3 separate regions of the Homo sapiens genome follow, and all the other regions are reported to be linked to region 3. Evidence: microRNA targets listed by miRTarBase, many of them from high-throughput screens and not tested one by one. Region 3 holds a microRNA gene; each other region holds the end of a gene's coding sequence.
Evidence for each region. Region 3 holds the annotated microRNA hsa-miR-6727-3p (UCCUGCCACCUCCUCCGCAG, at 894-913, opposite strand). A microRNA usually pairs through its seed, bases 2 to 8, with sites in the 3' UTR of a target mRNA and lowers its output. Matches are read on the target gene's strand: a 7mer-m8 pairs with bases 2 to 8, a 7mer-A1 pairs with bases 2 to 7 and ends in A, and an 8mer does both.

Region 1: the mRNA of ARHGAP26 is a reported target of hsa-miR-6727-3p. The part of its 3' UTR that is shown has no 7-base or 8-base seed match.
Region 2: miRTarBase lists HNRNPA1L2 as a target of hsa-miR-6727-3p. Seed matches in the 3' UTR shown: 7mer-m8 at 613-619.

What each region holds. Positions count from the first base shown.
Region 1 is chr5:143,221,964-143,225,009 of GRCh38, reverse strand. It overlaps ARHGAP26 (Rho GTPase activating protein 26), which reads right to left. Exons shown (of 23, transcript NM_001135608.3): 23 at 1-2,652. The coding sequence ends at 2,564. Among named protein-coding and RNA genes, the nearest start is that of ARHGAP26-IT1, 31 kb to the right of the region's middle.
Region 2 is chr13:52,642,938-52,645,983 of GRCh38, forward strand. HNRNPA1L2 (heterogeneous nuclear ribonucleoprotein A1 like 2) reads left to right here. Exons shown (of 1, transcript NM_001389320.1): 1 at 1-836. The coding sequence ends at 518. Among named protein-coding and RNA genes, the nearest start is that of HNRNPA1L2, 2.0 kb to the left of the region's middle.
Region 3 is chr1:1,311,609-1,314,733 of GRCh38, forward strand. MIR6727 (microRNA 6727) reads right to left here and starts at 958; the gene lies at 894-958. INTS11 (integrator complex subunit 11) reads right to left here. Exons shown (of 17, transcript NM_017871.6): 8 at 2,693-2,757; 9 at 2,124-2,313; 10 at 1,901-1,984; 11 at 1,427-1,516; 12 at 1,179-1,341; 13 at 985-1,092; 14 at 832-893; 15 at 618-760; 16 at 410-539; 17 at 1-316. The coding sequence ends at 251. It overlaps PUSL1 (pseudouridine synthase like 1), which reads left to right. Exons shown (of 8, transcript NM_153339.3): 8 at 1-69.

The DNA of each region.
Region 1 (3,046 bases), not on the chromosome of region 3:
TTTCTTGAGTTCTGTCTTGGTCCTGTCCATTCTTAATTCTCATTCCCTGATTCAATGGTAGTGTCTCGCTTGCTCCTGGGTGAGTTCCCGGAAAAGAGCTGTATAATCCTTGAGCTGATAAACTGAGTAGTGAATCACCATGACAAACCCCTGTTAACTTTAAAACCACCTGTAAAGCTATGACGGCACAATCTATACCCCTCCTGGAGTCTTCCTCTTCTTTTGGGATCACGGGAATTGGAGGTGAAAGGGAAGAGTTTTAAAATGTTTAGGAGAAGGGAAAGCAGCAGCACATTGAGAACTGAACATTCTAAGAAGCTGGTTCTTTAAGAACTTACAGACGCACACAAAATTTGAAAACTAGCTTGTCCACATTTCTAAAGCCTCAGAAGATGTGGAGAAAAAGAAGTAAAGAGCACAGCAACTGACTCATCTCTTTCTGGCCTGATATCTTGGGGGTACCAAGAAATACACCTGAGAAGAAAGACAAAAACTCGAATGCCTGACCCCACTTATTTAAATCCTGAGCTTCATCTTACTACTAAGTAGGCATTCTTTGAAAAACTCATTGCCTGGAGATGCTCTTCCCATCTCCAAATCCAAAGCCCAAGGGATGCTTAAAAACACATAAAGACTGAACACCACTGATGTGTCGTGCCCACCAACAGGACAGCAGAGAGCAAGGCCATAGAAATGTCTTCTCTTTCCTTCAGGCCGAAGCGGGGACAGTGACCTTGACTCTCTTCAGCTTTGCCTCCCCTCTCTCCCTCTTAAACATACTTCTTCAGCAATCAAAGCCTAAGTGTGTGAGCAACTAACTTAAAGAATATCAAATATAAAACTTTGCCATATAGTATTTCAAATCACTCTATTTACAAGTTTATCTTTTCAAAAAAAAAAAAGTAAAAGATACAGTAATTCAACACAATTCAAGTTTTTCTTTTCTTCTTTAAAGTTCCCTAACAAGGAATTCCAGAAACAGGAAACACTCTGAAGCAACGCTGCCATCCAAGGGGCTCCTGGGGAGCTTGACGGTCCATCGGTTTGTAGTTTGTCTAGAGTCACCCTTGCAATGACATTCACATGTGGAAGATACGGATAACTCTGTTGTTTGCAGGCCAAGTGAATTTGAAATCTCCAGGTAGTACTTCCCCATCCAAGACAGTCTTCCACAAGATCCAGCCTCTTTTCACCAGCAAATTCCCTTTTTCAGAGGGTACTCATCCCACCCTCCAACCTTGGGTTTCTTCCTGAATCACAATGGCCTATATTAGTCTCAAGCCTTGAAAGACTGAGAAATAATTCCCTTTTTCAGAGTGGCAGTGAACATAGATGTGCTTTTAAACTATAGGCCATACGGTTAGCCTAGGAATTAACCTTGAAAACCACCACAGCACCAGTGTTCAGCAGCCCAGAGTAGGGCAAGGGGGCTGGCCAGTGGTGGGTTAGAGGCAGGCAAGGGTGGGAGCAGAGATGGGTGAATGGGAGGACATGGGGAAACCAGTCAGATGGCATCACCCATTGGGAGGCAGCATCTTACCCTTTAAAAAACAAACATCAGTTGCATGGAGGAACAGAAATATTAAGACTATGTAATTTAATCTCAAGAGGTTACTAGGGTGTGCTCCAAATATATTCCGATGCTGCTGAAATTAATCAGAAAGGGAACAGTTCCCAGCTACTATCCCATCTGCCTCAAGTAGACCACCCTAATTCCTTGATCCTGTGCTTCAAGTTGTTAGAAAACCATTCAAAAAAAGTGTACCAAAAAGGGGAGAAAAAAAATGTGTCATGCAAAGAGGATGTGTTATTTTATTTTTTTGGTTTGGTTTTAGAGTAGGTTGGGTTGCCGTGGTTACTAGGCGATGGATGGCAGCCCTTGGTGGCAGAGAGGTTCCTAGCCTGGGAGGGAGAAACGCAGGGTGTGTGTGTTCCCGTGCATGAGAAGACTGGATTGTATCTCACTGATGACAGGCCAACGGCTGCTTTAGAGATGGTGAGAGATTGGATCTTATATAAACAGTGTTTTAACCCTCTTCATCCTGCATGCAAACAGATCCAGCTGCCTGTAGCACTTTAAGTCTCAAGTACTGAGAGGTGGGGTAGAGAGAGTGCCTATTGTAAACAAAAGCAATGGATCCAGCCTGGATCTCAGCGCCAATTTCTTCACCCAGCCCCAGCAGGCTTAGCTACACAGTGTGCTCTCAGGGACTATTTCTATCTGACTTCCTCTTTCTGAAGGTTGGGCGTTTGGACCGTTGAAACAAAATGAGTGCCCCCTATTCAGGGTACTCATGAGAAAACGGCTTTGCAAGTCTTCCTCTTAGTTATCAAATGCTCTCCTCTGCTGATTGACTTCTTTTCTTGCAGTACTGATGCATGTTGGCTGAGATGATCATGGAGATGAGTGACACCAGAGCTCACAGAAACATTCATGTTGACAGGTAGCAACAGAGTCAGTCACGCTGCATTTCTCAGTGGCAAAGAGAAATGGCCTCGACACTGGAATCAGCAGTTGTCATGGATACCATGTAAAGCTCAGCAGTTCTGCTGGGGCCCACGGTTAGAGGAACTCCACGTAATTCTCAGGGATGAGGCCAGTCTTTCCGTTCAGAGTCCCCTCCAACCAGCCAGGCTCCTGAGATGGGTGAACTGTACAGGAAGGGGAGAGAAAGCGAGAAGAGATGGCATTACAGATAGAGCAGGCGGCAGATGTGTGTGTGGGGTGTGTGTGTGTGTGTGTGTGTGTGTGTGTGTGTGTGTATGAAGGAAGCTTGGACAATGAGTACAATCACTTATTAAGTTACATCATTCTAGAAGTTTAAACCAAAGGTTCTGAACCTTTTGTGGAATATAAGCCTTCTGATGAAAGCTGTCCTGAACTTTCTTTACAATGAAAAAGGAAACAGACACAGACATACAAAATTTTGTGTACAATTTTAGGGGTTTCACGGATTTTCTGAAGCTCCTGGTTTAAACTACAAAGAAGTGACAGATTCCTACTCTTGTTAGAGGGCAACAGTTGTCCTGGTCCATCCATACATGT
Region 2 (3,046 bases), not on the chromosome of region 3:
CCTTTGTAACCTTTGACGACCATGACTCCGTGGATAAGATTGTCATTCAGAAATACCATACTGTGAAGGGCCACAACTGTGAAGTTAGAAAAGCCCTGCCAAAGCAAGAGATGGCTAGTGCTTCATCCAGCCAAAGAGGTCGAAGGGGTTCTGGAAACTTTGGTGGTGGTCGTGGAGATGGTTTCGGTGGGAATGACAACTTTGGTCGTGGAGGAAACTTCAGTGGTCGTGGTGGCTTTGGTGGCAGCTGTGGTGGTGGTGGATATGGTGGCAGTGGGGATGGCTATAATGGATTTGGTAATGATGGAAGCAATTTTGGAGGTGGTGGAAGCTACAATGATTTTGGCAATTACAACAATCAGTCTTCAAATTTTGGACCCATGAAGGGAGGAAATTTTGGAGGCAGAAGCTCTGGCCCCTATGGCGGTGGAGGCCAATACTTTGCAAAACCACAAAACCAAGGTGGCTATGGCGTTTCCAGCAGCAGCAGTAGCTATGGCAGTGGCAGAAGATTTTAATTAGGAAACAAAGCTTAGCAGGAGAGGAGAGCCAGAGAAGTGACAGGGAAGCTACAGGTTACAACAGATTTGTGAACTCAGCCAAGCACAGTGGTGGCAGGGCCTAGCTGCTACAAAGAAGACATGTTTTAGACAAATACTCATGTGTATGGGCAAAAAACTCGAGGACTGTATTTGTGACTAATTGTATAACAGGTTATTTTAGTTTCTGTTCTGTGGAAAGTGTAAAGCATTCCAACAAAGTGTTTTAATGTAGATTTTTTTTTTTGCACCCATGCTGTTGATTGCTAAATGTAATAGTCTGATTGTGACGCTGAATAAATGTCTCTAAAAAAAAAAAAGATCTTTGGTGGAATCCGTAGGCTGCTTTTTCATCTGGTGGCTGTGGCTCTCTGGTGTTTTGTCCTCAACAGCCACATCTAATATGAGCACTGGGAAGAAGACTCTTTCTAAGGCTGCTCAGCTTTAGAGTACATTTCTTGATGGTGTGAGCTTGGTGTCCTGTCTCAGAGTCACTAGTTTCCCAGCCCGAAACAGTTGTGTCTCAATGCCCTCCATCCTGCCTTTTCCACCCGGCCAATTACACACCATTCTAGGTCTGTTTTGTAGCACTCCACTTCCAAATACCAAATTGTCTATCAGTTTGGATTCTTAGTCGTAAGCAACAGAGATGGATTCTGGTTTTCAGCATAAGATAAATTGTATTAGAAGAATATTGTGCTGCTTGCAGAATGGCCAAAAGGACTAGAGAATCAGCATCAGTCTGAGCCACACGGCTGGGAATAAATCCTGGAACCATACTGCATAACTGGTCGGGTGAGGAGATTGTAGCCACTGTTGCCAAGCACTGACACACTGCTTTGTAACACTATCTGCTGCTTTGGGAATTTGATCTTGACACATGTGCTACTGCATCTGGAGAGGATACACTAAGGTCCTTCCTTGATTTGTTGTTGCTAACCAGTTACCAATTTTAAAGTATGTGCAAGTTCAGCTTAAGTTGTTTGGCATTTTCAGCTTTTATAGAGGGAGACTGGCTCAGTGGGAAGACTCAAGGAATTCCCCAGACATAAGAAGGAGCTGAATTCTAAGTAACCCAAAAGAAAGACCTACTTAAGGACAAATCCAGGTTTTGTGGGGCCAAAATTTACACAATTTGTTGGGGTTGTGGGAGTGGGGAGGGGATTTATTTAGGAAAAATACGTACAAAATTATATTAACAAATTAGATAGGGTTTGAAGGGGCTTTTGCAAATAAACACCCCTGAAGCTGTACTTTCCAAATCACTCCGCTAGATCTGATTTCAAGCCCACTCTGCTCAGCACAGGTTATCTCATGCTGGTTACCTCCTATATGTTCTTCAGGCTTTGGCTGAGACATTACTTACTCTGAGCTTTCAAAATCTTCTGACTGCTTTCACAGAACCCCTTTAATCTCTCCCATTTAGACATATATGACACTATAATAACTGCCTGTTGATATGCGTGATTCCAACACTAGATTATTAAGCACCAAGATTGCAGTCATTTTAGTATCCCCAGTCCCTCGCATATCTATACATAGGAGGGATTCAATATTTATTAAGTGAGAAAACTACATATTCTCCTTGCCTTTTTTTTCTTTCTTTTTTGAGACAGGGTCTCGCTCTGTTGCCCAGGTTGGAGTGCAGTGGCATGATAACAGCTCACTGAACCTCGACCTGGGCTCAAGCAATCCTCCCACCTCAGCCTCAGTACACTCAGTGGACTACAGGCATGCACCACCACATCTGGCTAATGTATTTTGTAGAGAAAGTGTTTTACCATATTGCCCAGGCTGGTCTCGAGCTCCTGGGCTCAAGGGATGCTCCTGCTTTGGCATCCCAAAGTGATGGGATTACAAGTGTGAGCTACTGCGCCTGGCCTCCTTGTGCTCATGTTCTTATGTTGCTTACCACCATCCATATGCTGATGACTATCAATTCTTATCTATAGCTCTAAATGTGTTTTAAAAAAATAGCTTTAGGCCGGGCGCGGTGGCTCACGTCTGTAATCCCAGCACTTTGGGAGGCCAAGGCGGGCGGATCATGAGGTCAGGAGATCGAGACCATCCTGGTTAACAAGGTGAAACCCCATCTCTACTAAAAATACAAAAAATTAGCTGGGTGTGGTGGCGGGTGCCTATAGTCCCAGCTACTCAGGAGGCTGAGGCAGGAGAATGGTGTGAACCCGGGAGGCAGAGCTTACAGTGAGCCGAGATCACGCCATTGTACTCCAGCCTGGGCAACAGAGCAAGACTCCATCTCAAAAAATAAAATAAAATAAAATAGCTTTATAGGGCTATAGTTGACATAAAGCAAACCATGCACATTATTTAAAGTGTACAGTTTGAAGTGTTACATATGTATACACTCGTAAAATCATCACCATAATCAAGATAGTGAACATACCTATTACCCCAATGTTTCCTCATGCCCCTTTTATTCTTGAAATTCCACCCTGCTCTCCAGCCCCCACCCCCACCCAGTAAACCACTGATTGTCATACAGA
Region 3 (3,125 bases):
CAGCTTTTACTGGAAACTGCTGTCTAGGACCACCTGCCCTAACCAGGAATAAAGGCAAGACAGCCTGGAGACCAGTTTGTTTCTTCAGCTGCAAACAGCTGCCTGGGCAGGCAGGTGACACAAGGCCTCTGTCCCCAGGGATGGGACCTGCAGGGTCTGTTCACCCAGGGCACCCACAGTCCTGAAGTGCAGGCCCAGGGTCTGTCCAGCTGGGAGAGGGCAGAGGTGGCGGCTGGGTGAGTTGCCGGCCTCAGCTGGGGGCCTGGGGGAGGCCCTTCTTCAGCAGAGATGTGAGGAAGCTCCCCAGCTCCTCGTCCTAGGGCAGAGGCAAAAGCATTGTGGGTGGTGCAGGACAGGGAGGAATGTTGATACCTGTGTTGACCGCGGTGGGGTGGGGGTCACCCCTTACCTGGTAGGTCCAGGAGACCAGCAGCACCTTGGTGCCTGGGTCCTCAGAAGGGGCGGCGGCCTGGAGGAGGACGGACTCCACAGTCACAGAGCCGTCTGGGAGGTGCTGCACACAGTGGTCCTTCAGGACGCTGTGGGGAGGCTCGGTGAGACCCTGCCTGGCCTCCAGGGCCCAAGGGAGTGGGGGGGGGGCGGGGCCGGGCGCCCACCTCTTGAGGTGGCTGTAGACGCGCAATGCCGTCTCCTGCTCCTTGCGTGTGTCATGCAGGTGCACGCGGCAGGTGAAGCGCAGCTGGTGCTCAGCCAGACCCAGCTCTTTGAGGGCTTGCTCTGAGGACACCAGCCGGAAGTTCTGTGGGGCAGGGACAGGTCAGTGAGCGCAGCAGCGGCCCTCCCCCCTCCAGAGACCGTCCTGGCACTCACGCTGTCCTTCATGATCAGGGTGCCGTGCAGGAGCCGAGGCTTCTTGGCCTCAGGGAGCAGCCCTGCGGAGGAGGTGGCAGGAGCCATCAATGTGAGGGCCGCTCCCAGCCGCCTGCCCCGAGCACCCTGCCCTGCCCTGCCCAGCCCGCATACCCTGCGCCATCTCCCGCTTCAGCAGCCCCAGCGAGATGCCTACGGGGATGCTGGGGCTTGTGGGCAGCGTCACCGTCTCGCCATTGGCCGGCATGTAGCAGTTGACCCCTGGACCCCGGGGGAAGAGAGAGCCTCAGCCCAGGCTGCCCGTGCTGACCCGAGGTGGGCCCCACGCCGCCCGCCCGGCTGCCTACGGAGCTCCTGCTCGATCTTCTGCTTCAGGAACTCCATCTTCTTGGCCTCGCCATGCACCAGCAGCACGCTCTCCGGCTCTGCCTGGCCCACCAGCTGCATGATGCCCTTGGCGTCCGCGTGTGCGCTGAATGACATGTACTCCACCTGCATCTTGACCTCCAGCTACAGAGGCCACGGGGCGTGGACAGTGGTTACCACCAGGAGGTGCCCCTCGGCCCTGCCAGCCCAGTGCGGGGTCGAGACTCACCACCTGCCGCCCCTCCATCTCGAGCTTCCGCTGCCCGCTGAGGATCTTGTGGCCGACGGTGCCCTGCACGCAGTAGCCGGGCATGATGACCTGGGGGCAGGCACAGAGCTCACAGCCAGGGAACTCCAGCCTTGGCACCTCAAGGCCTTGCCCGGGATGCCCCCGCCTGAACCCCTGGAAGCTGTTTCCACCTGCCAGCGGCGCCCGACCAAGCCTAGCTGCAGACTCCAAAGGGCTCAGGTTTTGGCACAAGACTGTCCAGGGCTGGGCTGGGGCTGTTCTGCCCGAGGTGGACAAGCTGTGTCACAGAGACTGAGCAGCTCCAGGCGGACATCGCCCCCGTTCCCCAGCAGCAGCAGCCACGTCCCTTGGCCAGCACGAGGCCAAGCCAGTGAGAGCTCAGAGACAGCATGGGTGGAAGGACAACCCGTCGGCCTCCAGCTTCCAGATTCCCACACCTCACCATGCCCTCACCATGTTCTTTTCGTTTCCGGCCCATTTCCGGAAGATCTGCAGGGACTGCCCAGCGTGCAGCATTCCTGGCGTGGCAAACACAACCTACAGGACACACAGGGCCAGGTGGGGGGTCAGGGCAGCAGATGCCCCCACCCCCACTGCAGGCCCAAGCCCAGACACCTGCGGAAGACAGGAGACCGACGGGTGTGGATGTGCTGGCCGGCCCTGCCGCGGGCCTCACCATCGGTCCTGGGTTGTCAGCAAAAGCCCGGTCGAAGGCCTTGATGTGCTTGAACTCAAACATGTTCCTCTGCACGAAAGTCTTGCGGATCTTCTGGTTGGTCCAGGGGATGAACAGCTTGTAGTAGTGGTTGGCCTTCTCGGTCAGCCCCGTGGAGAAGTAGATGGGCACCTTCAGGTTCATGCGCTCCCTGGGGACCACCGGCCCAGTCAGCACAGTGGCCACAGGGGAGAATGCTGCAGGGCAGGACTCGGCCGGGTCACCCCCAACACCCGTGTCTGCACAGCCCACGCACGGGCCAGGTTGAGTCCAGTCGCGACCACTTGTCCCATTAAGCCCTGCAGCAGCCGGGCTCAGCGGAGAACCAGGAACCCCTACAAGAGCCGCACACGGTGGCGCTGACGGGATGTCACAGGCTTCCTGGGGTCACACAGCACACGAGCGGCCCCCCAGGACAGCAGCAAGCAGGGCCAAGATGCCACCGCTACGCTGGACAGGGCTGCCCACCAACTGGACTGTGTTCAGGCCGGGCCAGGGGCTCCTTAAAGAGCCGTCCTGGCGGCACCTACCAGAAGGTCTCCAGGAGGATGCAGAGCTCCTGGGCGCGGCCCAGCGCGAACACAGGTATCAGCACCTGAGGGGGACACAAGGCAGGAGCCCTGGGCACATGGCCCCTCGACACAGCAGGCAGCGTCCAGTGAGGGCACGGCCAGGTGCCCAAGAGCTGCGGCCTCATAGGGACCTTAGCCTCTCATCTGCTCCCAGTCCCGTCCCAGCCGCTCTCCAGAGACAGAAGGGAGCCGTATGAGAGACAGGAGGGAGCCGCATGAGAGACAGAAGGGAGCTGCATGAGAGACAGAAGGAGCCTGGCCAGGGCTTCGTCCGCACCTGAGGTAGGAGGGAAAAGGGGCTCCCTAGGAAAGGGTCTCTGAGTTTTCCTCCTCAATGTTGAGCAAATCTTCTTCCCTCCCTGCCTGAAAATGCAGTACCCCCCACCCTGAG